3 separate regions of the Homo sapiens genome follow, and all the other regions are linked to region 3. The links come from fine-mapping of genetic effects on gene expression. A gene starts in region 3. Each other region holds a variant in brackets. All regions are shown on one strand. Distances are from middle to middle. Region 1 overlaps KDM4C (lysine demethylase 4C). Region 2 overlaps KDM4C (lysine demethylase 4C). Region 3 holds the start of KDM4C (lysine demethylase 4C).

Region 1 (10,861 bases), 220 kb after region 3:
CAAAGTCTCTGTTACTTATTAGGTATGTGACCTTGGACTAATTAATGTGAGTCCTCTGCGCCTGTCTCTGTTTCTTCATATATTTTTTTAAGGTTATTTAACAAACATTTTTAAGGGACTCTTATTCTCTAGGCACCTAGAATATACTTCTCTATAAGACAGACACTGTGTGTAGCTCATGGTTAAGTATAGAGTGGTGTAGGAAGGTCAGATGGGGCAAAGTATCTGAGATAATTCACTAATGGTTCATTAAAATTAGAATAAGAAATTCAGGGCCTGTGTGGTGGCTCACACCTGTAATCCCACCGCTTTGGGCGAGGTGGGTGGATCACCCGAGGTCAGGAGTTTGAGACCAGCTTGGCTAACATAGCAAAACCCCGTCTCTACTAAAAATACAAAAATTAGCCGAGCGTGGTGGCACATGCCTGTGATCCCAGCTACTCGGGAGGCTGAGGCAGGAGAATCGCTTCAACCAGGGAGGGAGAGGTTGCAGTGAGCCGAGATTGCGCCACTGTACTCCAGCCTGGGTGACAAAGTGAGACCTTGTCTCAAAAATAAAATAAAAAATCAGTTAGGGGATTATACCTTTTTTGTTTTTTGTTTTTGAGACTAACGTATCTGAACTTGCACAGATCTATGTGATTATGAGAGTGTAGTCTGAGGAGTTAGAATAAAATTATGTGTCAGGCCTAATTAATGATTTTGGCCCTGTTAGTTACCACCACCAGACATATTCTTGGTTAAATAAGAGGTTACTTTGATGCTAACACTTAGCAGTGCTTTGTTACTTCTTACTATAGAAATAATGAGCAATTATGAATTATGAAGTCATAATACAAGTTAGAAATAACTGTTAATAATAGATTCTTAATTCTTACTGTCTTCACTAACATTAGGGTTATTAGAAAACAATGAGATATAGAATGTCTTCCATTTGTCCATAATATTATATATATAGTACTATTCAGAGGGCAATTTGTATTAATAACATATAAACTGTTGGGTTCTTAAAGCCATTGAACATTTTGCATTTTAAAGTTTTATACACAGTCCCATGTTTTTATACCTTATATATTGGGGGATGTTAGGCACTTTCGCTTTGTGTTGGATAGAATATAGAACAGATGCCTTTTTCATGCTGTAGTTCTGATCTAATGTGATTTGATTGTGCCTCAAAGATAATTAGCTGATAGCCTTCAAGAGCAATAACATTTTTGGGAAAGGAGAGGCTAGAGTTTGATTTAAAAATTTAGGGTGTTTAAAACTAACTTTTGCTTTTTAAATTATCCATTCCCATTTCTTAAGGAAATAGCAATAAATATGTTGTTTGATTTTTTTTTTGGCATAAGTCATTTTTATCGGTAAATACATTTTTGGTGGCTACTGTAAAGGGCAGTATTTTAGATCTAAAGGATAAGATAGGACAGCATAGGTCTAGAGATATGATATCTACTCAGGCATCACCAGAAGACAACAATTTGTGTTTCATTTGGGCTTATTTGTTTTGAGACTGGATTATGAGATTAATTTTTGTATTTTTGGTAGAAACGGGGTTTTGACATGTTTCCCAGGCTGGTCTAGAACTCCTGGGATCAAGCCATCCACCTGCCTCGGCCTCCCAAAGTTCTGGGACTACAGGTTATAGCCATGTGCCTCGTGTCATTTGGACATATTTAAATCTTCAAAATAAGAGTTTGCCATCGGCTCCTCCCTTCTTTATGATTGTCCTGTTCAAAAATCTAATTGATCTTCTACATTGGGTTCTTTTCATAATTGTTGGAAAATTAGTAATTTTCTATGAAAGACAGTAATTCTTTTTAAATTTTAAATATTATCCTCTTTAGGTTATAATATGATATGTTCGAAATTCACTAGAGTTTTATTTTATGTAAGCAAGAAATCAACTTTTTCCCAGTATGTTCTGAAAGTTATTCTTCAATCCTGAGATTCAAGTGGATATTATTTCATGTCTCCCAAAACCACATACATGTTGCCATGTAATACCAAGCTCTTATGTTAAAAGGAGGCCTATTTTGTTTTTTAAATACAGTGGAGAATGAAGAAGTCACATAAGTCGAACCCCTGCCTCCATCTTATTTTACTTTACAGCATCCTACCTTGGACACCTGGGCAGTATTAATTCATGTTATGGACATTTCCTTTCATTAATGCCTGTCATCTGCTGGGCCTCCAGTTTCAGTTGTTTGCTCTAGATGTGAAGCCATGGAGTTGAGTCTGGTTGCAACATATGATCCAAACAGGAGCTTGATGTACACTGCTGTCACCTCTCCTGTGACAATGGCCCAGTCCTCTAGGGTTTTTTCAATCCCCCACAAGTCTGGGATTGCTCCTCCTGTTTGATTCTTCAGAACCACTATGCACTTACTTCCCCTTGACCCTTAAGACCATTTGTTAGATGCAGTATTCTGATTCTTATTTCTTTTGTTGCTTCCACTTTTTCAGTAAGGCAAAATAAGATAACACTAGAAACCTCAATGTTCTTGTGGTCAGGTTACCAAAAAGCAATTTGTATAAGCCATATTCGGCCTTTTAAAAATAGGCACTTATCTAGCATTTTCAGCAACATTCTACAAGAACAAAAAGTTTAATTCTATTGTCAGCCCCATGAGGATAGTTACCACTGTTACTCTCAGTTTTTCAGATGGAGAAACTGAGGCACAGAGAGGTTAAACAAGCTGTTCAAGATTTCATAGCTTGTCAGTGTTGAAGCTGGGGTTTGAATTTAGTCTTTTAAACACTATTTGCATTGTGGGTCTTACAGTTTCTCAGCAAATTGATATGATGTAATCTTTTTCACATCTTCCATTGCATAATAATTCCAAATAAACTTTAAAGGTGTAATCTTTTTATATTATCTTTTATACCATTACTGAGATTGTAATTGTTGGTGGGTTTAGGTTATTTAGAAAAATTTAGTATAGGTGGGTTTTCTGGTTGATTTAATCCTCAAGTAACAAATCTTACGACACATGGTGGCATGTTTCTGTACCTCCTGAAGGGTAGTTTGTTAGGGCTGTTGTAATAGCCCAGTGAGGTTCTGTCCACTCAGTCGTTCTGCATCTGTGGCTTGTCCTTGGAGTCATTCCTTTCTTTTTTTCTGTCTCTGTTCCTTTCAGTTCAGGCTGGCAGCATTTCTGCTGGTATAAAAGTCTCAAAATCCTTGTCAGTCTTCTGTGTAGTTCATGGACATCCAAGCATCAAGCAAGACAGTCCTGCACAGCTCTCTCCTGGATAACCACATTCTCTCTTCCTGGCTTCTGCTGACATGGTTGATTGGATCCACGAGTCACATACTTCATCTGTTTAGCAAGTTTGTCCAGCAGTACCATCCTCCAGTCTCGGAGCACACTCCTCTTTGACCATGGCTTATCTGCTGTTTCTGTTTAGGCTTCATAGCATCATCTGAGCAAACAAGATGAATATTAATAAGGTCAAAGGTTTTTTTTTCTGAGACACTTTCCTCAGAAATAGTGTTCTGTACCTCACCAGCTTATCTGCCCTAGGGATGTTGCAATTGTAATCATGATCAGGCCTAAATCAGCTCATTAAAGTGGGGAGCATCACTTTTGTTCACTGTTTATTTTTCTTTGTGAAGCAATATTAGTAACACTTTAAGAAAGTTTCTGGTTGTAAGTCCAAGCTTTTTTCCCCCTTTTGTCAAAAGATTACATCTTAATCCAAAATATCTTTCAATTTCTCAGGATCTTCATTTTCTTTATTCCAATGGCAAGATAATTATGCAAGGTAACTTAGAAACCTCATTATATGTAACCAATAATAGAAAGCAGTGGTGCAGATAAATAGTATTAGGTTCAGAGGAACAGTTGGGACAATTTATATTCAGAGCCGAGGATGAAGTTTTGCTGGATAGCCGGCTAGTATGCAGGAAGGTGGTGTGGTAGGAGGAAAATACTGAAGTAAATGAAGCATAAGGGGCATTTGGGCTCCCATGACTTGGGTTGAAGAGGAATATACATGTTGACTTGCTGTGGGAGAGAAACCTGAAAATCTCATTGGTGGAGTAAAGTCTTGGAGCCCTTAATGCCAGGCTCATAAATTTAGACCTTATTCTAGGTCTAAGAAAAGCAGGGTGATTACACCTTATTGAACTCAGGAATGAAAGATTGTAAGAGATTTGGGGGAGACGAAAGTAACAGCTATAACGATGGATTATTGTTAGGAGAGACTACAGGCAGGGAAATTAGCCTTGTTATGCTAGGATTCAAGGCCTGGCAGTGCAGCTGCAAGGATGCTGGCAGAAGGAATTGAGACAGGAGATGCCGTAAATGGAGACAAGGCTGAATTTTTAGGGGTGAAGACATAGGGAGTGTCTAGGAATGTGGACTATGTATGTAGGAGAATAGAAGAACTGTGGTATCATTTGGTAGCGACAGAGTGTGGTTTGAAGTTGAAGACATTAATTTTAGGTATTTTGAATGTAATGGCCATTAGGATGAGAACTCTGTGGTGGGAGTTTGGGTTTGGATATATTAAGACTTTGGAGTTAATTTGCATGGAGGTGATAATTGTATCACCAAGATATCTAAAGTCTTATTGTGTCAAAACTGTTCAGTCAGTCTGTTACCGGGTATGTTAGGGATTGTCAAGGTCTATCAGTTAAATCTTGGAGATTATTTATGCACCACCATTTGAATGATAACTTCCCTGTTGCGTAGTGCTGGCCTAGACCTGATAAAACTTTGTGTGAAGTCTTTATAGAAAACTTGCTTAATAAGATGTGACTGATAACTATGTATTCATGAGAATTAAAGGCATAGTAGATTCAAAATAATTTTTTCTTTGAACTTCTCACCTTTACCCCATGTCTTCATTTTAGTGGATATGTTTGTTGTTGTTGTTGATGGTATTGGATGTTGTATGTGATGTGATGTAGAAAAGGCTGTTCATTTGCTCCTAATTTTGGGTTACCTTATGAGAGTTCGTTAATAACCATAAATATAATAAAATATATCTTAGAGTAAATTTATCTCAACTCACTGGTTAAAGTATTCTAATCACACATTCATTGGGTTATTTTATTTGTTGACAACCCAGGTTTTCAGCTTTACAGACCTTTTAGCGCTCAGTTCATTGACACATCATTGTGATGGGCAAATAATCTTTCCATTGCAGGCGTGCTTCCAAATGAGCACTCTTTCCTTTTAGTTTTTCTTAGTACATAGTTCCCTGTGAGGTCCACAAACCATTATAACCACATTATAAATGTGAATATATAGATTCTCATCTCTATTCAGAAGAAATTGGGTTTATCACCCATTGAATGTTTGATAATGTAATGCATTATCCTCCATTATGTAGTGACTAAGTATTCATGGATGATGTGTTCAAGGACCAACTCTGTGTTACTGTATAGTTAGCGAAACGTTTAACACTCTCCAACCCGGTTGTGTTTCAGTGCACTTGCAGGAAAGACATGGTGAAGATTTCAATGGATATCTTTGTGAGGAAATTTCAGCCAGACAGATATCAGCTTTGGAAACAAGGAAAGGATATATACACCATTGATCACACGAAGCCTACTCCAGCATCCACCCCTGAAGTAAAAGCATGGCTGCAGAGGAGGAGGAAAGTAAGAAAAGCATCCCGAAGGTAATGACCCCTCACCCCACTGACCTGCCTTGCCTGTCGTGTTTTCTCAGTTAAAATGGGTCATTGGATGTGGCAATTTACTTGCTTTTTCTATTTATTCATCATAACTTAATACCTTTCTGAAAATGTGAGACATTATTTTTAATTCTTAGGTGTGTAATAAATACAATATAGGAAGAGATGTATATTTATTTTGTTTGAGAATATTCCTGAAGTTGCTCGACATGGCAAATAGAACAATATAGAACTTGTTAGACCACTTACATGAATGTGTTTTATGGTTGTATTATTCCTTTCTGTGCATTTCCATATTTTAATCAATAACTTGATTTTCCACTTTTTCATTTTGCCACCATTTTGCTTTTTGGCTTTAGTGGTTATCTTCTTCATTTGTCCAACATCTGAGCTACTGCTCTCTTCTGGATGCTTATATTTTACTACATTTTATGCACATGGTTTTATTCTTTTGTAAGATGTAAAACACAGCATATAGCATTTCTGTAACATGCTTATCCTTGTGAACTTTATTCTCCATTCCATCTTTGTGGCCAGGATCATTTCAAAAGCTTTTAGATGTGCTGTGGGCATCTTGTTGTTTTAAAACCTATTGAATAGGGTGTGTGTGGTGTTGCTCAGGTCCTTAGGCTACCTTTTAAGGGTCTTATGTTTTCCAATTTTATGTTAAATTTTCCTCTTCAATATTACTC[A/C]TTGTTTTTCTTTCAGATTATAAAAGTAATATTTGTGCATTGGAGGAAATTTGTAAAATAAGGAAAAGAATAATGAAGGAATCCCATATCACTCATAACCTCACTATCCAGAGATAACCAGTATTAACATTTTGTATATATCCTTTACCTATATATTTATTATATATTTTATAATATTATATATCTTTCCAAAATTGGGGCCATGCTCTGTTAATAATCTGACAATCAGTTTTGAGTGTTTTTTTCATGTAACTGATTGATTTGCTGCAACATGATTTTTAATGCCTGCATGTATTTAATCCCCTGTAGCTTGTGTCCACTTTTTTGATATTAACTAAGTAACACCATAATTTTACATCTTTGCCCAGACTTATGATGCTTATTTTCTGTCTTTTTTTTTTCCCTGATATTTATTTTCTGCTTATTTAGAGTGGTAGTGAGTGGAAGAACCTTAGGAACATGGAGTCAAACTTCGGCATCTTATAAGAGGTAGACCTGAGGTGCAGAACTAACTCAGGTGTTGATATTTCCCCCTGTAGTTTACCGCAATGATCGTCAAAGTGTTTGTTAGTAGGTCAGGACCAACATTTTAAAATGAGGTGGTAAAATAGAATAAAAAGTATTATAGTGCTTCCTCTGTGGTAAGGGCAAATATTCACTCATGACATGTGTGAGTATGTGTGTATGTGTGTATATAGTGTCACTATCTGAAATATATAACTCACTGTGGGTTACATTCAAGAAAAGTTTGAGAAATACTAATTTGGACAGTCAGTGTCTTTGATAACTGTGTTAATTCACAGCACTAAAGAAGCCAGCGCTGGAAGGAGGCAGTATCCAATCCTGAGTTCAGAATACACACCAGGAGAACATCTTGAGCATTGTTCTGTCATGGATGGAAAACACAATATTTTCATTAGGTGTATGACTTGGTTTCCAGGTATTAACCACAGTGGGCCTTTTGGGTTGATAGAGAACATGGATTTATGACACTTGAACAGATCAAAATGCTTGTCAGTAGGTTCAAATAATCAATGGAACTTGCTCACCTACTTAGAAAGCCTGACTATGGGCTTGTTTAATATGCTCAGCCTTGTGGCTTGATATTTAGAGATTATTGATCTCCCTTTGGAAATAGCCCATTTAGGGAAGTCTGATGAAGGGAATGATTCATTGATGTCTCAAGCACATGTCAGCCTTCTTTTTTTCACATATACTACACTGTTTATAATGTTGAGATTTTCCCACATCAGCCAATGCATGGATTTGCAACAAAAGCAATGATGGTGATGATCATACTACTGCAGTTACTGCCATCAGTAGCAGTGAAAGCTAATTTATATAGGTTATCGCAGGCCACCCTATTCTCTGCCCTCCCTGACTTCCTACAGTGCTTAGTCCTGTGGTGGTTTCTTGTGTGTGTATAATACATATGGGTGTGTTTTGGACACTGTTGCTTTGAGTTGATTTGTAATTGTTCCTAATTGTTAGGAATGTTTGTTTCATATGTAAAAAGCATATATGCCAAAGCTATCAAGTGACCTGCTGGAAAATACTCAGGAAGAAGATAAAAATTGTGTTCACTCTGAAAATAGTATGTTGATGTACGATGTTAAATACATAAAATTAGGCTGAATGTGGTGGCTCATGCCTGTTATCCCAGCACTTTGGGAGGCAGTGGGGGAGGATCACTTGAGGCCAGGAGTTCTAGACCACCCGGGACAATATAGTGAGACAGTGTCTTTATGACACACACACACACACACACACACACACACACACACACACCAGTTAGCCTGTGTCTGTTTTAAATCCTTTCGCTATTGATGAATTGGCATTTAATTTGAACTATTTTCATACATACCTGACAATTATACAAAACTCAATGAAAAGTAGTCAGTAGTTTACCTTGAAATATAAAAAATTTACTTTTAGCACTAGCCTAACAGGATATTCTGATTTTTATTTATTTTCTTCATTTTCTAAATATTTTATTTATTGATTTTATTTCTGTCTCATTTCAACATTTTTTACTTTATTTTTATTTTCAGACTTTTAAAATGTTGTCACAAAATTTTAGGAATGGCCCTTTTTCAAAATAATGTTTAATAATTATTTACAGTTGTGTGAATTTTAAAGTTTTATTGATTGATAAGAAAATTGTGTTTAAGATTTTGATTTCAAATTTAATCATTCAGTTGTGAACATTGACTTGGCATAGTGATTAACAATGTCAGTTGTTTCCTTCTTTAAGCAAGTGAAAATGACATTTATATTGGGATGTGTTTTTCATATCCATTGCAGACATCCCGCTCTGACCACTGCTTCTCTTGTTGACAGCTTCCAGTGTGCTAGGTCTACCTCTAAAAGGCCTAAGGCTGATGAGGAAGAGGAAGTGTCAGATGAAGTCGATGGGGCAGAGGTCCCTAACCCCGACTCAGTCACAGATGACCTCAAGGTCAGTGAAAAGTCAGAAGCAGCAGTGAAGCTGAGGAACACAGAAGCATCTTCAGAAGAAGAGTCATCTGCTAGCAGGATGCAGGTGGAGCAGAATTTATCAGATCATATCAAACTCTCAGGTGAGAAGATGGTTGATTAGGTTTCACATATAAGTAGTAGGTGGTTGATGATCAGATGTCTTAAATGGATGTTCACTATGACAAGTATCTGACTAGTCCACATAGCTTAATCAGTAATCTACCAAAGTCATGGGTAACTCAACCAATAGTCCCAGGGAATATTGTAAAAGTCAGGAGCCTCACTGCTATGTGTAGCAGAATTGTGAGACAAGCAGTCAGCAGTGCCTATTTGGTTTAATAAAAAAGAAGATTCTAAAATGAGTTTTTTTTTTTTCGTGCAACTCAATTTACAATATACGTTTTTGGAAGGCTTCTTTTGAATTCACATGAGTAGAGAAAACCAATTATAGATAATTCTTTGTAGATTCTTAGCTTTCGACTTAAGAAGAAAATAAAGATCAAGGTTTTAAGAACAACAATAATGAAAAGTCAACCTAGTGAAATGACATGTATAGTCCCCTTGCTTCTCTTTTGTACTAAAGCCATTGTCTGAAAATCTCAGCTACTTTGCCTTTTCTCCCTTTGGTAGCATATTTTTCTGAAACTGCTTTAGTGATTTGCCTCTTTCATATTTGTTGGAGTTTTTGTATTGTAATAAGCTAATTCCTGTGTTCCTCTCATACTTCTCATCCTGTAAATCCTTCCTCATGGGATTCCCCCCTCCGCCAGAATCCGACTCCCTCTGCTGCTTCCTCCTCACTCATGGCACCATAGCTGTTGCCTGGATGACTGCAGCAATTGCTTCCTTCTTATTCAGGAATGTCAGCTGTAGTCACCCCCGCTAGTCAGTTCTCCAGGTGGCCATTAGAGTGATCCTTTAAAAGAAAAAAAGCTTAGGTCTTGTGACTACCTTCTTCTTAGTATTATTCCACCTATAATAAAAGAAAAAGTCTTCACATAGTCCTAAACTGGTCCTCAGCTGCTACTCCAGCCTCATTGCCTTTGCTCTTGAAATAGCTGTGTGGATAGAGTTTAAACCACAGAACTTTTAAAAAATGAGTTCATGTTTTAGTGGAGAGCTAGGCAAATAACCACATAATTACAATCCAATGTGGTAAGTAGCATTATAGAGATTGCATAGGATGTTGCTGGTTTACCAAGGAAGGACTTCAAACACACAAGAGCTGGATAGCCAAGGTTTCTTGGCAAAGGTGATATCTGAATTGAGTTTTGATGAATGGATATAAGATAGCAAGGCAGAGAAGGTAGGGAAGGGAATTACAACAAATGCAGAATAGAGAGTTAGGCAATACATATGGATATTTCACTATAGTCCCTTTTTTTAAAATTTTTAAATTTTTTTTGAGACAGAGTCTCTCTCTGTCGCCCAGGCTGGAGTGCCGTGGCACAATCATAGCTCCCTGCAACCTCTGCCTCTCAGGTTCAAGCGATTTTTTTGCCTCAGCCTCCTGAGTATCTGGGACTAAAGGTGTGCACCACTATGCCTAACTAATTTTTATATTTTTAGTAGAGCTGGGGTTTCGCCGTGTTGGCCAGGCTGATCTTGAACTTCTGGCCTCAAGTGATCCACCTGCCTTGGCCTCCCAAAGTGCTGGGATTACACACGTGAGCCACCGTGCCCGGCTCCTCATCATGCTTTCTCTTACACTGTGTTTAATTAGCCAGTTTATGAATTGCTGGATGGTTTTGCCTAAGGGCCCTGAATTTCATTAGTTCTGTCACTACATGGTTCTTTGCACATTGATCTCCAGATTTTGAGCCCTGGCATAATACTTGAGTAGAAGAACTGGGTTGTTCAGTATCAGAGCTAGTATGTGATGGGTACAAATGAGGTTTGTTTTGTGTGTGTGCATGTATGTGCATGCGCATGCGTGTGTATGTGTGTGTAAGATACAGAATCATTTGGGAATAGTTTACCAATTCTACTTAGTAGTAATACAGTGCATGATTTATTAACAGTCTTCTGTTTTATCCTCAGGAAAC
Region 2 (10,861 bases), 420 kb after region 3:
GTTTTGAGACGGAGTCTTACTCTGTCACCAGGCTGGAGTGCAGTGGTGCGATCTCAGCTCACTACAACCTCTGCCTCCCAGCTTCAAGCGGGTCTCCTGCCTCAGCCTCCTGAGTAGCTGGGACTACAGGCATGCGCCACCATGCCTGGCTAATTTTTGTATTTTTGTTAGACAGGGTTTCACCATGTTGGCCAGGATGGTCTCGATCTCCTGACCTTGGGATCTGCCTGCCTCAGCCTCCCAAAGTGCTGGGATTACAGGCGTGAGCCACCATGCCCGGCCTCTACTTAATAAGGGAAATAACTCTTCTTACTTCCTTGGTTGTTGGCTGGTTCCCTTGTTTGTTCTGTTTGAGTCCTTTTCATCTTTTCATGTAGTTAATTGGAGCCTTTAAAAATGGTCAGTGCTGTTTTTTTAATATGTATCATGTTATATTATCTTTCATTAGGTTGAGTTTGAAGATGGATCCCAGATAGCAATGAAGAGAGAGGACATCTACACTTTAGATGAAGAGTTACCCAAGAGAGTGAAAGCTCGATTTGTAAGTGCTGGCAGATGCCACTTGGGGACCTGCCAAGTGAATTCCTTGTCCTCACCTCATGTTTCCCAAGCCCAGCAGGAAACATACTTGGGCTTTTGGATTAATTCTAAAAAAAGCCAATGCAACATTTTCCTTAGTGGAACCTATTGAATGCAAACTTCAAATTCAACCAAAATCGGGGAAATTAATGCATGTGCTTTACTTTTCTTCTAATGAAGTCACATGATGCTTCTTTGTGTTGACATTTATTGGTGCACAAAAATACTTACTGAATGTGTGCTCTGTGTAAAACACCAGGAGCAAACAAAGATACCATCAAGGCATTTGCAATCTTGTTAGTAGAAGCAACATTAAAAGTATTCAGGAGTAGATCAAAGGGGACTCGGCATAATTGAATGTCTGTCTATTCTTTTATAGGTTTTTCATGGATTGACTACCTTCTGTCTCAGAAAGTTACTGATGTTTGTGTCAGTTCATCATTAAGCTAAACTCTGACTTTCATAATAAAAGGGATAAACAAAGCCTAAATGCTAGTTGTGGGAATACTAAAGCAGTTTTTTAAAAAGGAAATAGTAGTTTCATGCCCTCACATACCATTAAAAGATGAACAAACATGGACAAATATTCAAAACTGCAGTCATTGAAAAATATAATTCACAATAATTTAGACTTCATATTATTGTATCATAAAATATTCAGTGGACCCTGAAATGAAGTCAGTTTTATTCATTTAGAATTATATCTATTGTGTCTGTGAAATGATAAATCCTAAATAGAGAAATTTGAATGGATGGGGTTTTTCTGACTAAAATGAAATTTTTTTTCTGAATAATTCAGTTTAGTGAGTGCTTATGATATACTTGTCTGCAGTGATAGAGTCACTATAGATTATTTGGTTATTTTGGAAAAACCAAGGGTTTTCTTAAATCAGGGATGTCCAATCTTTTTGCATCCCTGGGCCATACTTGAAGAAGAAGAATTGTCTTTGGCCTCACATAAACTACACTAACAATAGCTGATGAGCTACTAAAAAAAAAAAAAAAAAAAGCAAAAAAAAACTCATAATGTTTTAAGCAAGTTTACAGATTTGTGTTTGGCCGCGTTAAAGCCATCCTGGGTAGCATGCAGCCGGCGGGCCATGGGTTGGACACGCTTGCCTTAAACGTTCAGTTGTGTATGCAGCTTTTTTCCAGTCAGATGGGATCCTGACAGCAGAGTAACTGCATCAGGTGGGAACTGACTTTCCTCTCAGCTGCATCCTTCAGAGGAAGGTCCTTCAAAGTGAAATCGTCAAGAGGAGTGGTGGTATTGCTGCCCACTCGATGGGAAATGTGGCTCAGAGGGGACCCACACACCTGTAAATAGAGTAACTACTAGATAATGACAGCAAGCAAAGAAAAAATTAAATATTCCTGTTGTAAAGATACCAGCCAAATCTTACCAAGACCGAAAAACCTTAGATGACTTGTCGCTGTTCTGAGACCTGAAATTTCTTGAGAAAAACTTTCCTTTTCGAGATGTTAGAGATAGCTTCGTCTCGTTCTGTATTCCTGTCTTCCTTGGACTCCCCTCTTCCCTGCCTTATTCCCAGCTCCTCCCGCTCCTTTCTTTTCCTTTTTCAGCACCTAGAGATTTAGAGGATGGGGAGTGGAGTAGGTAGCCTCTCAAAGTCTCTTGGGTCTTTCATTTTCTAATCGATGTATGACTAAGCATCCTACCAGCTGAGTCTTGTAGATTTCAAATACTGTTTCTTAATCACATGAGAAGAAAGCTCATTGCTTTCATACTCTGATCACAATCTCTTTGTTTCACAGTAGATTTCGCTCAGATACCAGGATGCCTTCCCCTGTGGCTGTCTCGGAACACAGGTCCTGGATTTTCTAAGGTCTATTTCACTGAACAAGCTCACCAACATTCAATTTTTTTTTTATTCTCTGAAAAAATTTTTAATTAAAAAAAAAGTGAAAATATGTAAATCACATCCATACACTCTGAATGCAGCCTGCTATTCTGAGCGGCTAAGCCAAGTAGAAAATATCTTAGGGAACAAAGGCTCACGGTCACTAAGTCCTGTTGGCCACCTTTATTGAATCAAAGACATACACAGTCTTGTCGTAGCCAGCCTGTTTCTCCCCTGGGTTGGTACATAGCCCTCAGACCCTTGGTTAGTCTGTCCATGATTATTACTATTTTTTTTCCAGTTGGCAAAACAAATCTAATTGGAAAACTCATTGATGGAAGATGTTTTATGGTTAGAAAAGTCTTTTTTGTTTTTTAAGGATGGAGGTTAGCCGCCCTTGTCAGGAGGCCTTGTATTTTAATGACTTCGGCTCACCCAGACACACGCTGACTGGGGGAGAAACTGTTCAAAAGAGCCAGCAGTCCACCTCAGTGATTGTGTGGGGTTCTTTTCCACTCACTTCAGAAGCAGCCCCGTTACCTTTTATTGTCTCACAGAATAACCATAGCAACGGTGCATAATTAGCTAGAGCTCCTGGTAAATCGGTTTTATTATTGTATTTGAGAGGCCGACTTTTGCTGTTTCTGCACAGTGGCAACACTTTCATAGATGTTTTATTTTCTTCTTTGATAACTTTAGCACTTACACAAGTGAAAGATTACTCAGAGGAAGTATTTTGCCAAGAATGAATGAAACAAAAGTGTTTTCTCCTAATGGCAGAGGGAACCCAACCAGCCCATAATGATTTAGTTTTCTTCTCTAGTGAAACTAGGTGGTATGTGGGGGAAGCCGTGGAGGTGGCCTGTTACCCTGAGTAACTGTCCCATGAACTGGCTGGAAACATGAACAGCTTTACGCTTCGGTACATTTTTTGTTTTCAGGCTTCCTTGTGGCTGTTTTCTTGTTTTTCTCTTCTTTACTATGGACCGTGTGTTTTCAAGTCCTAAAGTGTCTTTCACCTCTGCCTCTGCCAGCAGCCAGGGGAAGCAGTCTCAGCACAGTGAAATGTGCTGTGTGTTGATGTCATCAGAAGTCATCCACCTCAGTGAAAACAGCTGCCAGTGCATTTTAGGAGGCAAGATAGTAGGGAATTGGGAAGCAAAAATAGTGCCTACCATAGACTTTAGGCTTTATCTGATTATCACAGAAAAAGCCACATGCCCTCACTCAGCAAACACTTACTGAACAGCAGCCAAATACTAGCCACATTGTTTGCTGTGGGGAACACATGTAAAATTGGGTACACAGTCCCTAATATCCTCACCTTTATGGGGTTCCCCTGATGGGGAGAAACTTACTTGCCCCTTACCTCTACCACTGCCCTCCTCTTACTGAGTGGATGTGTCAGGGCCACAGGAGTCCCAAAGAAGGACCCTTAAGCTTGCCGAGGGCAGAGACAGTAGAATAGAATAACTTTCACAGAAATGAAACAGTGTGTCCAAAGACAGAGAAGCATGGGGCCCTGAGCCAGGCAAGTATGACCAGGCCCTGCAACTGATGCCGTCTGAGCAGAGCACGGGGCAGGCTTCTGGCCAGGTTATGTAGGTCTAGCCTGGGGAGTGGGGATGTCATCTTGAAGGCAGTAGGTTGCTGGAAAATTACAAGCAAGGGCATATGATCATGTAGAGTCTTATAATAAGAGGGCTTTTAGAGAGCTTTCTTCCAGTGGTACTGTGGGAAATAGGTTGGAGGTACAGCATTTATTGCAGTGCTTTGCAGAGGTGAGGGCCTGCCCCATAGGGTAAGGATCAAGAAGAAAGGCTGAAGGGCTTCAAGGTACATGCAGGAGGAATCCTGGACACGGTGGGGAAATGTCTACAGTGCCTTTAGGTTTCTGGCCAATGTAACTGGGTGCATGGGCATGGTGGTGCCTTTTATGGAATGTAGGAAGGACAGCAATGAAGAAGGAAGGCTTTCAGTTCAATTTAGGACAGGTTGATTTGAAGGGCCTCTGAGACAGGGACTTTGTGATGCCTGCTGGGGAAATGCACTTACAGGCCTGAGCTGGAGCAGATGTGAGCATCTCCTGCAGACACTGAAGCCAGGGGTGTGGGCACAAAGGCCCAGGGAACAGGAGTGGAGAGGAGAAGGCCCAGTGCCAAACCTTAGGGCATCGTAGTTGAGCAGATAGTTAAGAAAGGGAACCCCTGAGACATCAAAAGTGAGCAGCCAGAGAAGGAGAAGCAGGAGAGTGGGTTTACAAAATGACAGAGAAGAGAGCTTTAAGCAGTAATTAGTTGGCAGACTAGTCAAGTCAGTTTAGGGATAGGAAGGTGTCACAGGAATTAGCAACTAGGACTTCATTCAGCAAGAACAGTTTCAGGGAAGGGGTGGGGCAGAGGCCCAAAGCTAAGTAGGAGTAAAGGTAACTTAGAGATGACTGTTGACATTTGTCAAAAACAGAGGGGAGATGAAAAATGAGGGAAGTTTAAAACGAGAAGACTTTAATCTTGCTTTTGTTTGGGGAAGGTCCCTGGGGTTGGAGGGTGGGGAGATCCTGGAGAAAGTAGGGCTAAATGGAGCCCCCCACTTTGGGTGGGAGAGGCGAGGGAAAGCCCAAAGCCATGCCTGGGGCCCTTTTA[G/T]CCTGAGCTGGTGACCTGGGCATCTGCACCCTAACCCCAGCTGACCGAGTCAGATCTTTGTCCAGTGTTCTGAAGATCAAATGCCGTGCCCTTTTGCAATATAACACCAGCTGCTTTTAGTCCACAGCCTCTGACATGCGATTTGAAGACACGTTTTATGGAGCAGACATTATCCAAGGGGAGAGAAAGAGACAAAGAGTGCTGAGCTCCAGGTTTAAGAATGAATATGTGGCCGACCCTGTATACCGCACTTTTTTGAAGAGCTCTTTCCAGAAGAAGTGCCAGAAGAGACAGTAGTCTGCATACATCGCTGCAGGCCACAGAGCAGCTTGGGTTGGAAGAGAGAAGATGAAGGGACATCCTTGGGGCTGTGCCGTGAGTTTTGCTGGCATAGGTGACAGGGTGTGTCTCTGACAGTGGTAAATCGGGTTTCCAGAGTTTGGTCACCAAAAATACAAAATACACCCAATGAATTGGACGCAGCAATCTGAAATCATCTCTAGTCTTGCTTTCACTTGTGAGCAGTTGTCTTCTATGATCCCAAAGAAGTTTTCTAAGTGAAAGGAAATACTAGTGAATCACCCACAAGGAAAAGCCACTGCCACAGAGGAGGCGGGTCCCCTTGTGCGGCTTAGGGCCCTGTCAGGAAACACACGGGGACCTCTCTCTCTAGCTCCAGCAGGTGGCACCTCGGTACCCAGCGGGTAGGGCGATAATTTATATATTTTCCACAGTCAGGGAAGGACTCTCACTTATTTGTTTCAAATTGCAGTTTTTATAAAACATTTTTAAAACACAAATGGCATGTATGCTAATGAGATTTACCCGTGTGCTATCTGTATTTCCCTTGTACAGAACTTTTACATTTTTGAATATTCCTATTACTTTTGATTGTGTCTGATGGGAACTGAGTTGTTGGCCTTTGTGAAATGAAATTTTTGGCTCTTGAGAAAGAATTCTTATGAATTGTTATGCGAATTTTATATATTTAAAGAGGGAGATCTGGGGCTGTTATTTTTAAACACTTTTTTTCATAATACATATTCCGAGTAGATATTTATAAAATATATGTTTCTTTCATTATGTGTTTGTAAAATTAGAGTTTAAATAAATATGCTTTGATGCATAGTTTTGAACTAATGTAACATGATTTTTCTTTTTTAAAACAGCCTGAAAATGTACTAGTGTTTAAAAATAAAGATTTCCATTTTCTCCAGTCCTGTCTCTGACTTGCTTATTTGTCTGGGTTTAAACCAGTAGAAAAACAAGTTTATTGGAGAGCTGGCTATCAGGACATACTGCGGCCCAGGTTTTTCAGACCCTCCTTCTGTCGCTGACTTTTTCCATGGTTGTGGCACATGCATGGCGATATTTTTGGAGACAAAGTCCCCTGCCTGCCTACTTCAGTACCAATGGAAGTGTTTTCTTCAACTTCTTCTAGGCCCTGAATACATCTCAGACCCTTGAGTCTGGATCACTTTTCGTTCCAGGATTCCTGGTCCGCAGCTGTCATTAGTAGGAATTAGAGGTCCTCCAGTCCCTCCTTCATTGTATAAATGAGACCCGGAGGATAGACAGGAAAAGGGATGCCCAAGGGCAGGCAGTTTTGGTGACTGCTTCAGTTAACTGGGGCCACCATTTTGCCGCATTGCAAACAATTGCAAAATTGCAAAATCTTAGTGGCCTGCAGCAAAAAGCATTTATTTCTCTCATCTAGGCAGGGCTTGGCTGGACAGCCGTGCTGACCTTGGCTTGGACTAGCTCACACACCTGCTCCGTGGGTCTCCCATCATTCTAGTGGACCCAGTGGGCAGCCCGGATATGTTCTTCTCATGTCAATGGCAGAGGCAGGAGAGCAAGGAAGCCCAGCCAAGTAAGCACATTTCAGTCCTCTATGGGGCACTGGTTAACATCCTATGGGCAAAAGCCCAGAGCCAGGGACTGGGATGGCATTTCAGACTTTTATGGCAAAGGGTATGGGTGTATCCTGGTCCTGAATAGAGAGTGAAGACCAAAACAGTAAGGAAAGAGCCACAGCTAAAACCCAGTTCCCTAGACTGCTCCCTGGCTAGGTGCTCATATTCCAGAGTACCTTGTGGCTGAACTCTGAGCTGGGGTAGAGCCCAGCAGCCTTCTTTTTACAGAGACTAAGCACTCCACATTCTCTACCAGTGTAGTCATATATTTTATCAACTAATCAAGCTTGAATTTTCTATCTCTAGGTTTTGAATGGAACTGACCTGCTCTCTCTATAATATGCCAGGAAAGTAGGCCTGGTTAAGGCATTAAGAGGAATTAATCTAAATAGGATCATTTGTTCTGTACAAGTTTGCCTGTCAGCAAGATTTCTGATTGGCTGCCACAGGGAGAAAATGTGCAGAGGTCTATGCGATCTCAAATACAGCTGTTTTTTATAGTCTCACTTAACATATGTGCCTATAACCAAGTACAGCTGTATATGGCCTTAGTAAAATAGTGCTGGCCACAAATGCACTCTGGCTATTGAGAAAGGCACCTTTGTTTCACTGCATTCTGCATAAAGTGGTTATTAGCTCTATGACCAGACAGACCGTTAAACCATTTTCACTTACTGTGTGGCACCTCAATTGTGATTTTAATTTTTTTGCGTTACACTAGCTGCATGTTTAGTGTATACGTGTAGCATAAAATCAGCTGAAGTCCTTCTAGTATTAAAAAAAAATTGCTTAGCTGTGACAATTCTAATGTAACACTAATTGCAAGCCCTTTCTCTGGAGGTTAAGGGATTAGTAAACACGGCCTGGCATATTTCATAACATTTTAATTCCTTTTTGTGTGTTTGAAATGAGAACAATGTGATTCTTGTCAGTTAACTTTTATTAAAGGACTTTTTTTTTTTTTTTTAGTTCAACTAGAGAGAAATTGAGAAGAAGCATCCACTGAAGTATCACATGGCTTCTTAGAATTTATTACACATTGTTATTGGGTCACAGTATGTGAAAACATGGAGACCGAGAATACAGAACTGTGTAGAAGTGAATGAGTCTGCCACCTCTCCTTGTACCTATCCACTGTGAAACAAGGGCGTTCATGCACACGTTACTGTAAATGCCCTGGAGGCCTTATGAATAATCATTGGAGCAGTATCTGCTGCAAGATAACATTGTGCTTTATTTTTGCCTTTAAGTAAAAGGAATCTGAAATGAAACAATCTTCATTTCAGATATAAATCAGCCCCATAAACTTGAAGCTAACCAGAGATCCTGAGGCATTCTCATTACATGAAGTAATTGGTTGGTTGCAAGACTCAATTGTACTGCAAAGTCTTCCTGAGAATTCAGATGAGCAGTTATCTGAAGAGTTACACATCCTCTCACCCGACATGTTGTAGGAACACATAGCATTGGCCAGTGGGGCGAATGATTTCTAGTCTCTGATGAGGCCGGAACTCTCCAGCAAGTGGGCCTATGACTGAGAAACCCCGGGCAACTTTGAGGTCCCTTTGAGGAAATGAAACTTCATCAAAAGCAGCCAATATTAATGATATATTGAGCATCTATTGTGTACATCCAGTCTTCTAGTCTCCTTGGTGACATTCATCTTATTTAACCTTCCCAGTAAATCAGCAAAATAAGTACCATTACCCTCTTTTATGGAATAAAACTAAAACTCACAGAGGTTGAGTAACTTTTGAATCACTCAACCTTCTCAACGCATGAAGAAAAAATCCGACCCAAACAAGAGACATTGGAGAGGTGAGTCTGAAGCTCAAAAGAAAGGTTAACGTTAGAGATATGAGAGATATGAATGTGAAGGCATTATCTTTATTGGTGGATGTAAAAGTGTACAGGAAAATTATCTCCTGGCAAAGGCAAAACTATAGGCACAGAAAACAGATCAAGTGGTTGCCAAGGACGAGATAGGGGAAGGGATGACAACAAAGAATGTAAGGGAACATTTTGGGGGTGATGGAGATGTTCTTTATCTTGATTATGATGGTGGTAACAAGACTGTATATATTTGTCAAAATTCATAGAAAACACTCAAATGAGTGAACTGTATGTAAATTACACTTCAATGAACATGACTTTTTTTTTTTCCCCATTTTCCAGGCTTATTCTTCTTTTTTCGACTTTTTTAAGTAAGTAAAAATCTAGGGGAATGGAGGGCAGGCTACTTAGAAAACATATCACATGAAAAAAGAAATGAGCAGAGATCAGAATCCTGGAGAACGGCAAAACATAGTTGGGTAGGAAAAGAGGATCCTGTGCGTGAGGGCTGAGAAACTCAGTGAGGTGGGAAACCCAGGATGCTATGGTTTCCTGGACAGCAAGGGAAGAGCATGTTTCAAGAAGAAGCAGTGGTCAAAGCAAAAAGAAAACGTTACCAACTCCAAGGAAGATTATGTAATTGGGAGAAAGGAGTGCAGAACCCCACACGCAGTCCAGCAACACAATGCTGGGAGGTGGGGAGGGAAGCCTCGTCCTGGGTCACTTGCTGCCACCAAGTGTGGAGGGGAATCCCAGACTTCCTGTTTGGTCTTTACTGACACTGTGGAAGCAGGGGCCATGCCTTGCGTTTGATAGGGGTAGGAGGAGTATTGTCAACGTTTTTGTTTTGCGAGATTGCGCCTTTCCCTGTTCTTTGACTAGACAGAATAGACTTTTCCTAGGGCTTTTTTTCTTTTTAAGTTGTGTTTGCTTGTTGGTAGTTGCCATTTACAGGATTTTCCGGTTCCAAGTCCAGGAAATATGGGAGATAAAAGGAAAACGCAGAGAACTGAACCCTGTTCACACAGATTCCTTAAATCCTGAAGTCCTTGTTAGTCTGCTTTCCTCCTTCAACACTTTGTAGTTCTCTTAAGTTTATTTGTTGTACTATGTCTAGGATTTTAAATTATACTTAGCCAGGGAGAAACAAGCCCAGAACAAGAAGTCCTCATTTTTTCTTTTTTTGTTTTCTTTGTTGTTGTTGTTTTGAGATGGAGTCTGGGTCTATCGCCCAGGCTGGAGTGCAGTGGTGTGATCAGCTCACTGCAACCTCTGCCTCCTGGGTTCAAGCGATTCTCCTGTCTCAGCCTCTCGAGTAGCTGGGACTACAGGCATGCACCACCATGCTTGACTAATTTTTGTATTTTAGTAGAGACAGGGTTTCACCATGTTGGCCAGGCTGGTCTCGAACCCCTGACCTCAACTGATCCGCCCACCTCAGCCTCCCAAAGTGCTGGTATTACAGGATTGAGCCACTGCACCCGGCCACTTTTTCTTTTTGATAGGAGAAAATATTTATTTCTGAGGGAAAGGATCTAGTTGAAGGGCAGAGATGGAGAATCTAAACAATAATTTCTGGAGAAATCCCAAAGGGAGGGAAAGGGATTAGGAGCAGAGATGGAGTTGCAGGTTTTACACAGGAAAGGGGAGATTTTATCCGAGAAGACCAATTTCCTGATTATAAGAACAGAGAAGGCAGATTATAGAATTGTTCCAGAAGGGGGTATCCAGGTGGGTTTGATGTAAAGAAAAGAGTGTGAGAGAATTGAAGATGCTGGAAAGAGAACAGTTTCTTTCAACTCATTTTTGGGTTGAATAAGAAAGGTAGTTGATGTCAAGAGGGGACTCACTGGGAGGAGAGAGAAGAATCTCTAGGGAGTGGAAGGCCGTGGGAGACTGGATCATGGCTCCTAAAGATGTCCACAGCCTCATCCCAGAACTTGTGAATGTTACCTTACATGGCAAAGAGAGACTTTGTAGATGTTACTAAGTTAAAGGCTTGAGACAAGGAGATTATCCTGGATTATCT
Region 3 (10,861 bases):
TTAAAATTAATAATAATAATAATAATCAGCCTAGATTCAGCAGGTGGGGATATAGCTGATCTCTTGATGGAAGGAAGGGCAAAGTCACATTGCAAAGGATCATGGGAAGATCTTGTGGCTACATTTTACAATTTATCACAACAGGGAATGGATATGACAAGGACCCAAACTATATTAACATTAGTTCAAGAAGAGAGAAGCCACTTACAACTTTAGCTGAATGATGAGATCTCAATTATGCATAATCAGAACACTTAAGGAAGATGGAACAGGATAGTTGTTCACAATAGTCAGCTCAAGGCCCCTAGAAAATGTATTATAAAGCTGCAGGCTGAAAATTGAGCTCATTGATCAGACAGAATACCTTCTGGAAGAATTTGAGTAGAAAAGAAAAATCAGAGCAATTAGGTAGGGAGAAAGGGAAATATTAAAATCAGTGAATTTGATAAATTTGAGGTAAACTACAGAATGTGAAAATATCTTACAAGGCAACATTTTGTTCTGCAGAAGAAAGCCCATGACAATTAGGTTCTTGTTTGTGATACCAAAGGAGCTACTGCTGGAGAGATTAAGCAAGTCACATTCCTGAGTTAAAAATTAAGGAGGATGGCCGGGCGCGGTGGCTCACGCCTGTAATCCCAGCACTTTGGGAGGCCGAGACGGGCGGATCACGAGGTCAGGAGATCGAGACCATCCTGGCTAACACGGTGAAACCCCGTCTCTACTAAAAATACAAAAAATTAGCCGGGCATGGTGGCGCGCGCCTGTAGTCCCAGCTACACGGGAGGCTGAGGCAGGAGAATGGCGTGAACCCGGGAGGCGGAGCTTGCAGTGAGTCGAGATCGCGCCACTGCACTCCAGCCTGGGCGACAGAGCGAAACTCCGTCTCAAAAAAAAAAAAAAAAAAAAAAAAAAAAATTAAGGAGGAACAGGTAAAACAAAAAATTGGTAACGTTCTCAAAACCAGGGATTTTTTTTTTTTTTCCGGTGGAGTTTCGCTCTTGTTGCCCAAGCTGGAATGCAATGGCATGATCTCGGCTTACTGCAATCTCCGCCTCCTGGGTTCAAGCGATTCTCCTGCCTCAGCCTCCTGAGTAGCTGGGTTTACAGGCATGCACCACCATGCCTGGCTAATTTTGTATTTTTAGTAGAGACGGAGTTTCACCATGTTGGTTAGGCTGATCTCAAACTCCTGACCTCAGGAGATCCGTCCACCTCGCCTTCCCTGGAATTACAGACGTAAGCCACCGCGCTCAGCCTAAAACCAGGGATTGTTAAAGCAACTTCCAAAAAGTTATATTGTGGTCTCTTTCCAACTAATATATGAATTTTATTTATATATGCCAAGTGCTCTATTTCCTATTATAATCAGAGACTTTATAAAAATAGCAATAAAATATCTGTGTTCCTCAATGAAGATATCTTTTAAGTTCATGCCTGAGGTGGAGGAGCATTTTATCCCTCAGTGATGAAAGATGTCCTGTGATATTCCAGGCACTCTATGATCATTAATGGAAGAAGTGTGCTTGGACTGAAACCCATGCCTCACCCTAGTTCCAGGGGACCACTGAGGAGTCAGAAATAGCAGCTGCTTTTGATCTAAGCTCTGATGTAACTACAATACTAATCAGTATCTCAAGAAGTTCCTCTCCTTCTACCCCAATGGATGGTTTGGTTGACTCTGGCACAAATCCTAATCCTTATCAGGAATGGCCATGATAAGCTCACCTAGAGCAGAACTTCTACCTCTTCTTAGTCAGTTTGGACTGTCTTTCCAATGATAAGGATTTCATGGATCTAAAACTTTTCTTCCACCCTTATTTCTGAAAGTCTTCCAACTCAGGCCTAAGAGTAAGCACACCAGGCATTTACCTGAAATAATGGACTTGTTCCATGATTATTAAATCTATAAACACTGACTTCTATCTTTTATCTATCATGTCTTGGTCTATTTTGTGGTGCTATAATAGGATACCACAGACTGGGTAATTTATTTTTATTATTATTTTTAATTGAGATGGGGTCTCGCTATGTTGCCTAGGCTGGTGTTGAACTCCTGGGTTCAAGTGATCCTCCTGCCTCAGCCTCCCAGAGTGCTGGGATTACAGGCATGAGTCATCTCACCTGGCAGACTGGGTAATTTATAATGAACAGAAGTTTATCGGCTCGCAGTTCTAGAAGCTAGAAAGTCCAGGACTGAGGGGCTGTATTAGGTGAGGGACTTTGTGCTGCATTATCCCATGGCAGAAGGACAAAGAACAAGAGAGAAGAGGATGAACCCATTCCTGCAGTTACGGCATTAATTCATTAATAAGGGCAGAGCCCTCATGGACTAATCATCTCTCATTATTCCTGTATAAGTAACATACATATTTGATAAAGGTAAAGGTAAATAAAAACACTAAGTATTACTATCATTGAATTCTTTTTTTTTTTTTTTTTTTTTTTTGAGATGGAGTCTTGCTCTGTCACCCAGGCTGGAGTGCAGTGGCACGACCTCGACTCACTGCAAGCTCCGCCTCCCGGGTTCATGCCATTCTCCTGCCTCAGCCTCTGGACTAGCTGGGACTACAGGCACCTGCCACTGTGCCTGGCTAATTTTTTGTATTTTTAGTAGAGACAGGGTTTCACCGTGCTAGCCAGGATGGTCTCGATCTCCTGACCTCAGGTGATCCGCCCGCCTCGGCCTCCCAAAGTGTTGGGATTATAGGCGTGAGCTACCGAGCCCAGCCTCATTCAATTCTGTATATTTGTTTTGTTTTCTTTTCTTTTTCTTTTTTTTTTCTGAGATGGAGTTTTGCTCTTGTCATCGAGGCTAGAGTGCAGTGGTGCTATCTTAGCTCACTGCAACCTCTGCCTCCTGGATTCAAGTGATTCTCATGCCTCAGCCTCCCGAGTAGCTGGGATTACAGGCACCTGCCACCATGCCCAGCTAATTTTTGTATTTTTAGTAGAGACAGGGTTTAACCATGTTATCTAGGCTGGTCTTGAACTCCTGACCTTAGGTGATATGCCCGCCTTGGCCTCCCAATGTGCTGAGATTAGAGGCATGAGCCACTGTGCCCAGCTCAATTATTTATATTTGTAAAAAGTGTAGTGTACTTCAACAGATTCAAAATTAGACTATTATTTAGAAGTATATCAATTTGCAGCCAGGGCAGTGGCTCACTCCTGTATTCTCACCACTTTGGGAGGCTGAGGCGGGAGGATCATTTGAGCCCAGGAGTTTGACACTAGCCTGGGCAACATAGTGAGACCCTGACTCTACAAAGAAATAAACAAATTAGCCAGGTGTGGTGGTGTGCGCTTGTAGTCCCAGCTACATGGGAGGCTGAGGTGGGAGGACTGCATGATCCTAGAAGTGGAGGCTGTATTGAGCCGTGATAGTGCCACTGCACTCCAGTCTGGGCAACAGTGTGAAGATCCTGTCTCAAAGTAAAAAAAAAAAAAAAAAAAAAAAGCAGCATATAAATTTGCTGCATTATATATATTTTAAGAAACTTACAAGTATTGGCCAGGCATGGTGGCTCACGTCTGTAATCTCAGCACTTTTGGAGGCGGAGGCCAGCAGATCACTTGAGCTCAGGAGTTTGAGACCCGCCTGGCCAATGTGGCGAAACCCTGTCTACAAAAAATACAAAAATTAGGCCGGGCATGGTGGCTCACGCTTGTAATCCCAGCACTTTGGGAGGCCAAGGTGAGTGGATCACAAGGTCAGGAGATCAAGACTATCCTGGCTAACACGGTGAAACCCCGTCTCCACTTAAAATACAAAAAATTAGCTAGGTGTGGTAGCACGCGCCTGTAGTCCCAGCTACTTGGGAGGCTGAGGCAGCAGAATGCCGTGAACCCAGGAGGCGGAGGTTGCAGTGAGCTGAGATCGCGCCACTGCACTCCAGCCTGGGCAACAGAGTGAGACTCTGTCTCAATTATAAAAAAATGCAAAAATTAGCTGGGCATTATGGCACATGCCTGTAATGCCAGCTGCTCAGGAGAATGAGGCACAAGGCACGAGAATTGCTTGAACCCGGGAGGTCAAGGCTGCAGTGAGCCGATATGGCGCCACTGCACTCCAGCCTGGGCAACAGAGTAAGACTCTGTCTCAAAAAACAAACAAATAAATAAAATAAAATAAAAACAAGTATTGTCTCTGAGGTGATCTGATGATCTGTTCGTTAGTTCACATTACATATAAACTTCAAGGGGAATCTATGTATTGTTCATACAGCCTTCCATTAATATATTGCAATTGGGATTTAAACAATTGAATCTAAATAAAAAATTTACTATATGGCTAAAATGTTTTCACGATAATTCATAATATGGAGGTATTTTGATACATTAGGGACACAAGACTGCCCTCAGTGCCATGAGTCCAGTTGATTTTCTAGTAGGCTCTCTTCACTTTCCAAGACTGTGAAGCACTTAATGGATTCACATAGTGCTTTACAGCTTTTGAAGTGTTTTGACATTTTACATTATCTTCCTTAAAATTAAAAAGTGCTCAGTGAAGTTAGCAAGGTTCGTATATCCACTTCAGTTCTTCAGGTTAAAAAAAAGTCATACTCTAATTCACAATGGTAAAGAAATGTTATTTGTGCATCTGCAAATTCTGAAGAAAATGGATTTCAGGTTTCCAGATTTTTTATTCTGGTGCACAAGATTTCTAATATAGCATATGGCTTCCAAAAGACCCTAGCTGCTTGATTGTGGACATATTTCTTAACCGCTATGCTTCAGTTTCCACATCTGTAACAATGAGGTATTAATAGTACCTATTCATTGAATTATTATAAGTATTTATTAATACATGTGAAGCTCTGAAGACAGTGTGTAGCTCACATTACTGTTCTAAGTAAGTGTTAGGTTGCATATTTATTATTTTAGCATATCCAATTTACTTGTAAGGATGGTTGGGATCCTGACGTTACATGCACACATTTGGAAAATTCCCAGTTGAGTATACGTTAGCCAAGTTCAGAATTGTGTGTGGCCGGGTGAAGTGGCTCACGCCTGTAATCCCAGCACTTTGGGAGGCCGAGGCGGGCGGATCACCTGAGGTCAGGAGTTTGTGACCAGCCTGGCCAACATGGCGAAACCCTGTCTCTACTGAAAATACAAAAATTAGCTGGGCGTGGTGGCGGGCGACTGTAATCCCAGCTACTCGGGAGGCTGAGGCAGGAGAATCTCTCGAACCCGTGAGGCGGAGGTTGCAGTAAGCCGAGATAGCGCCATTGCACTCCAAACTGGGCGACACAGCAAGACTCCGTCTCAAAAAAGAGTGTGTCTGTGTGTGTAGCGGAACTTTGTTTTTAACAACTAAAGAAATATGGTGACCCAATAATCCCGTTAGCCTTAGCTCAATTAATCACATTCCATCTGTCCTCACAATGTTCACCCCAGTGAGAAACGAGTTCAAGCGCGTGGTAAGCGGTGTCGATATATTTTTAAAATTCTGTTATCAGTATAATGTAACAGAAAATTCAGCATATTAGCCCAACTTTGCTCACTGGTGTGAAGATATGCCCAATCTTTCTTAGCTAAGACGTTAGAGAAAACGCCACAAGGGACCCAGCTGGGAGCTCTGTAGGAAGTTTAAAAAAAAAATCATTCAGCTTTGCAAAACATCTGATGCTCAACCATCTGTCTTTGGCAGTACAGGGGCTTAAGGTCTGGTTGGTTCCTTCTGACACCTCGGAAGGCGGAGTTACAGAGGAAAAGCAACAAGTTGTAGGAAGTTAACTTATCTAGTCTCAGACGCTGGAGGCACCTGCATTTCTAGTCACTTCAGTTCTGGCCAAACTGTTATCAACTCTAGTTTCTGAGGGACCGCCAGCCCAGGATTCCTATTGGGGTCACCTTTGTGCCTCCCTATCTTAAGAGCACACTTGGGCGGGTCGGGGCGGGACGTGCTGGGTGTAGGTGACTCAACACCGGACAGTTTTGCTTCCAGAGGCTGACACGCTCCTGCGCGGTAGTTGTTAAAGGGTTGGGACACGAAGATACTCTTCGCCTATTCGGGATCTCCCATTGTGGGAAGGAGGCTCAGTGGTCCCGGCCACCGGGTGAAGGGAGAACGGGAACACAGCGCTGTCATCGCCGGAGAGCTGCGAGCCCCGACTTTCTCGCCAGGCTCTCCAGTACATTCCGAGGCTCCACCCCGGTAACGCCACGCTGACGTCCGCGCGTCGGAGGCCGCCATAGGTGCGCGTCGGCGCCCAGGAGGACGTGTGGCGCGTGGACTACATCAGGTCCAGCCCTGCGGGACCCCAGCCAGCGCTTCCGGGCAAGGTTCTGTGCACCTGTTTTCTCCTTCTACGCGAGTATCTTTCCCCTCCGGAAAGAATGGGATATGCCTGTGTCCAAAGGACAAGAAGATGCGCGCCAGCAAGCCTAAGTTAACCACAGCGCGGAAGTTGAGCCCAAAGCAAGAGCGTGCCGGGCACCTTTAAGCTGTTTGTAAGCCCACGTGACTCACCAAGTGCGGGCCCCAGCGGTCACGTGACGGCGCGCGCGCCCTCGCGCAGGGAGAGCCGGCGGTGCGCGCGCCTTCGCCGCTGCCTCCCACCCACCCCCTCGACGGGAGGGTGAGGCGCGGCGCAGTGATCGGGCGGCCGGGGTCCTGTGCGCGTGCGCAGCGAACAGCTGTCACCTAGTGCGGAACAAGTCTCCCAAATTTCCCAAATCTCCCTGGGCCGGAGGCCACTGTCTTCTCTTCCTCCTCCACCGAGTCGTGCTCTCGCCCCAACCCGCGCGCCAGGTAACCGCTTTTCCGGAGTCTGGGGGCCAGGGCGGGGGGAGGGTCCGGAGAGGTCTTCCCGGCACTGCCCCCCTCCGCGTGGGGCACGGGGGTGCGGGCGTCCGGGCGAGCGGCGACGCTGGGGCAGAGACGCTCCGTCCGTGACTGCAGCGACTGTCAAGCTGGGGAGGGAGCGGCCGGCCGCGGCCGCAGGGGAGGGATGCGGGGGCCGGTGACAGCCCGCTCCGGCCCTTACCGAGGTTCGGTACCCGCGCTCGCCGTTTTCCCGGGATCCGGAGTCGGGGTCGCCTCCTTGGGGCAGAGGAGCGCTCGGGCGGTCCTGGGATGCGGACCTCTTAACGCCGCCAGTCGGCTGTGGCGGACTCCAGGAAGGCCGGGCCTGGTGCACCCCTCGGGGCCCTCCCTTCCCTGGGAGTGTCACGACCCGCGGGGTGAGGGTGGGAGCTCCTCTCCTGACCACCCGTTGCAGGCAGTCATCCCGTCATTCGGGGTCGTCTTCAGCCCTCGCGGCTGTCCTTTTGGTGTTTCTTTCCCCCGGCATGGGGCCATTTCTTCCTGCAGTGCCTGGAGGAACCATGATGCGGTGTAGACGGCGGGTGCTTAAATAAATGCGAGTTGGATTAGGGCGCGTGGACTGCCAGGCACAGAACGTGGCGTGGAGTGGGGACGTGGAGGAGGGAGCCAGACAGGCCGGGGCTGTAGGCAGGAGCTTGGGGTTTTCCTCTGTGCTCCGCCAGTAAAGCCAGCAGCCGGGATTCAGATGCTTTCCGCGTGGACTTGATGCTGGGCTCCCCCTTTGCTGCGCGGTGCAAGCCTGCGCTGGCTGGCTCTGATTGTGGGCAATACTACCGGGAGGGGTTTTGTCAGGTTCCTTCTTCCGGAAGAGACAAGGTAAACTTTTTTTTGCGCTTGATAAACTAACCCCGAGAGGTGATTTATAAAGCACTGTTCGGAAATGTAGGTTAGAAAAGCAGAGTCACTTTTATCCTGGTGAAAGTTACTAGTAGGTTCCGGCCACTTAGGTTCACACTAAACTCTGCCCTATTTTCACCCATTTCAGTTTGCGGTATTTAAAAAAATGTCTAAATTCCGGGCAGCTTGGCTTTACTGTTTCTATGGCAACGGTGACTAATATTCTCATTTCGAAGTGTTGTGGTTGAAAACTAGTGGTTTTAATTTTTAAAGGTCCATTTTTTATTAGGAAGCAGTCGGCTCTGCTTTGCGATTATCGCTTGCTTTCTTACCTTGCTGGCCTCCGCGCAACCCGCCCATAGTTTGTTTTGGAACGGATTACACGGTTGTTCGGGTTTTTTAGGTGCTTTTTCTCCCAATTTCAGTGTTATGAAAAGTTTTCACATAAGCTTTACAGTATCCCGCAAACTTGGTAATACAGTACAATTTAAACCGAAGACTTATTTCTTTTTATTAACAGACTTTAGTCAGTTGCTTTTCTAAAGTTGAAAATCAGACCCGGCGCCGTGGCTCCTGCCTGTAATCCCAACACTTTGGGAGGCCGAGGCGGGTGTATCACCTGAGGTCAGGAGTTCAAGACCAGCCTGGCCAAAATGGCGAAACCTCGTCTGTACCAAAAATTCAAAAATTAGCCAGGCATGGTGGCAGGCGCCTGTAATCCCAGCTGAGGCAAGAGAATCACTTGAATCCTGGAAGTGGAGGTTGCCGTGAGCCGAGATGGCACCACTGCACTCCAGCGTGGGTGACAGACTGAGACTCCATCTCAAAAAAAAAAAAAAGTAAAAATATAAATAAATAAATAAATAAATAAATAAATAAAAGCTTTTAGTAAATGAATAGTCTTGTGCAACCATCACCACAATGAATTTTTGAATTTTTTTAATCCCCAAAAGAAGCTCTGTTCCTATTAGCTGTCATTGCCTAGTTCCCTCCAATTCTATCCCCTTCTGTCCCTAGGCAACCACTAATCTGCTGTCTGTCTCAATAGATTTGGCTATTCTGGACATTTTATATACATGGAATAATACACTATCTGGTCTTCTGTGAGTGACTTCTTTCACTTGGCATAATGTTTTTTAAGGTTCATCCATGTTGCAGCCTGTATCAGTACTTCATTCCTTTTAATGGCTAATATTCTATTATGGATACATCACATTTTGTTTATTCATCAGTTGGTAGACATTTGTGTTATCTCTGCTTTTGGCTGAGTAATGCTATGAATATTTGTGAACTAGTTTTTGTGTGGACGCGTGTTTTCTCTACTCTTGGGTATATATATATATATATATAATGTAATTGCTAGGTTAAACATCTGTTGAATGACTGCATGCGTAAGGAGGGATAGTTAGTCTTGGGTGATACTCTTTTTTATTTATTTATTTATTTATTTATTTATTTATTTATTTATTTTTTGAGACGAAGTCTCACTCTGTTGCCCAGGCTGGAGTGCAGTGGCACGATCTCTGCTCACTGCAAGCTCCGCCTCCTGGGTTCACACCATTCTCCTGCCTCAGCCTCCTGAATAGCTGGGACTACAGGCACCCACCACCATGCCTGGCTAATTTTTTTTTTATTTTTAGTAGAGATGGGGTTTCACTGTGTTAGCCAGGATGGTCTCGATCTCCTGACCTCGTGATCTGCCCACCTCAGCCTCCCAAAGTGCTGGGATTACAGGCGTGAGCCACCGTGCCTGGCTTGGTGATACTCTTTCAAGCCTTGAAGGGGCCTGTTGATCTTTCCCTATTCCACTGCCAACTTCAGTTCTCCAGTTCTCTAAAGTGGGGCTTTATTCTATGGTTAATGCTGTGTTTTCCTTTCCTGGATGTCTTTTTTTTTTTTTTTTTGAGACGGAATCTCGCTCTGTTGTCCATGGAGTCTCACTCTGTGCCAATGGCGCGATCTCGGCTCACTGCAACCTCTATCTCCCAGGTTCAGGCGATTCTCCTGCCTCAGCCAACCCAGTAGCTGGGATTACAGGCACCCACCATCATGCTTGGCTAATTTTTGTATTTTTGTAGAGACAGGGTTTCACCATGTTGTTCAGGCTGGTCTCGAACTCCTGACCTCAGGTGATCCGCCCACCTTGGACTCCCAAAGTGCTGGGATTACAGGTGTGAACCACTGTGCCCGGCCTCTGGATGTCAGTATTAAGATCATCCTGTTCTTTTTTTTTTTGGAGACAGGGTGTAACTCTGATGCCCAGGCTGGAGTGCAGCAGTGACAGTCTCAGCTCACTGTAACCTCTCTGTCTGCTGTGCTCTGGCAGTCCACCAGCCCCAGCCTCTCAAGTAGGTGGGACTACAGGTACATGCCATCATGCCTGGCTGATTTTTGTGGTCTTGCCATGGTACCCCGGCTGGTCTGAAACTCCCGGGCTCAAGCAGTCCGCTTGCCCCAGCCTCCCAAAGTGCTAGGATGACAGGCGTGAGCCACTGCACCTGGCCTGATCATCCCTTCCTGTTAGCACAGTCTTTATACTGCTCATGGTTATTCCCTTGATATTCACTTATTTGCTCTATATTTAGTGATAAGATAGGTACATTCTGTACTTTGATTAAGCTCAATATCTACTGAAAAATGTGTGTTCCCTTTTGTTAAATATTAGTATTTAATGCTTCTCTCCCAACCTCTGTCTCTTTTTTCTTTTTCTTTTTGAGATGGAGTCTCCCTCTGTCGCCCAGGCTGGAGTGCAGTGGCATGATCTCGGCTCACTGCAACCTCCGACTCCCTGGAGTGATTCTCCTCCTCAGCCTCCCGAGTAGCTGGGATTACAGGCACGCCCAACTAATTTTTTTCGTATTTTTAGTAGAGACGGGGTTTCACCGTGTTGGCCAGGATGGTCTCGATCTCCTGACCTCGTGATCCGCCTGCCTCGGCCTCCCAAAGTGCTGGGATTACAGGTGTGAGCCATCATGCCTGCCCATTTTTCTGTTTTTATTATACTTTAAGTTCTAGGGTACATGTGCGCAACGTGCAGGTTTGTTACATAGGTATACATGTGCCATGTTGGTTTGCTGCACTGATCAACTCGTTGTTTACATAAGGTATTTCTCCTAACACTATCCCTCCCCCAGCCCCCCACCCCACAACAGGCCCTGGTGTGTGATGTTCCCCTCCCTGTGTCCATGT

The links. PIP is the estimated chance that this variant, and not a neighbour inherited with it, causes the effect.
Region 1: its variant is fine-mapped to the expression of KDM4C in whole blood (TOPMed, PIP above 0.99).
Region 2: its variant is fine-mapped to the expression of KDM4C in T cells (TOPMed, PIP 0.90).

The regions. Positions count from the first base shown.
Region 1 is chr9:6,975,488-6,986,348 of GRCh38, forward strand. KDM4C (lysine demethylase 4C) reads left to right here. Exons shown (of 22, transcript NM_015061.6): 9 at 5,438-5,631; 10 at 8,679-8,917; 11 at 10,857-10,861. Among named protein-coding and RNA genes, the nearest start is that of KDM4C, 220 kb to the left of the region's middle. The variant A/C (reference allele first, on the strand shown) is at 6,339.
Region 2 is chr9:7,169,350-7,180,210 of GRCh38, forward strand. KDM4C (lysine demethylase 4C) reads left to right here. Exons shown (of 22, transcript NM_015061.6): 21 at 449-541; 22 at 5,204-6,299. The coding sequence ends at 5,380. Among named protein-coding and RNA genes, the nearest start is that of KDM4C, 420 kb to the left of the region's middle. The variant G/T (reference allele first, on the strand shown) is at 5,084.
Region 3 is chr9:6,751,444-6,762,304 of GRCh38, forward strand. It overlaps KDM4C (lysine demethylase 4C), which reads left to right and starts at 6,530. Exons shown (of 22, transcript NM_015061.6): 1 at 6,530-6,760. RefSeq lists enhancers at 4,621-5,332, 6,064-6,423, 7,624-7,843, 9,882-10,564 and silencers at 6,464-6,703, 6,794-6,963.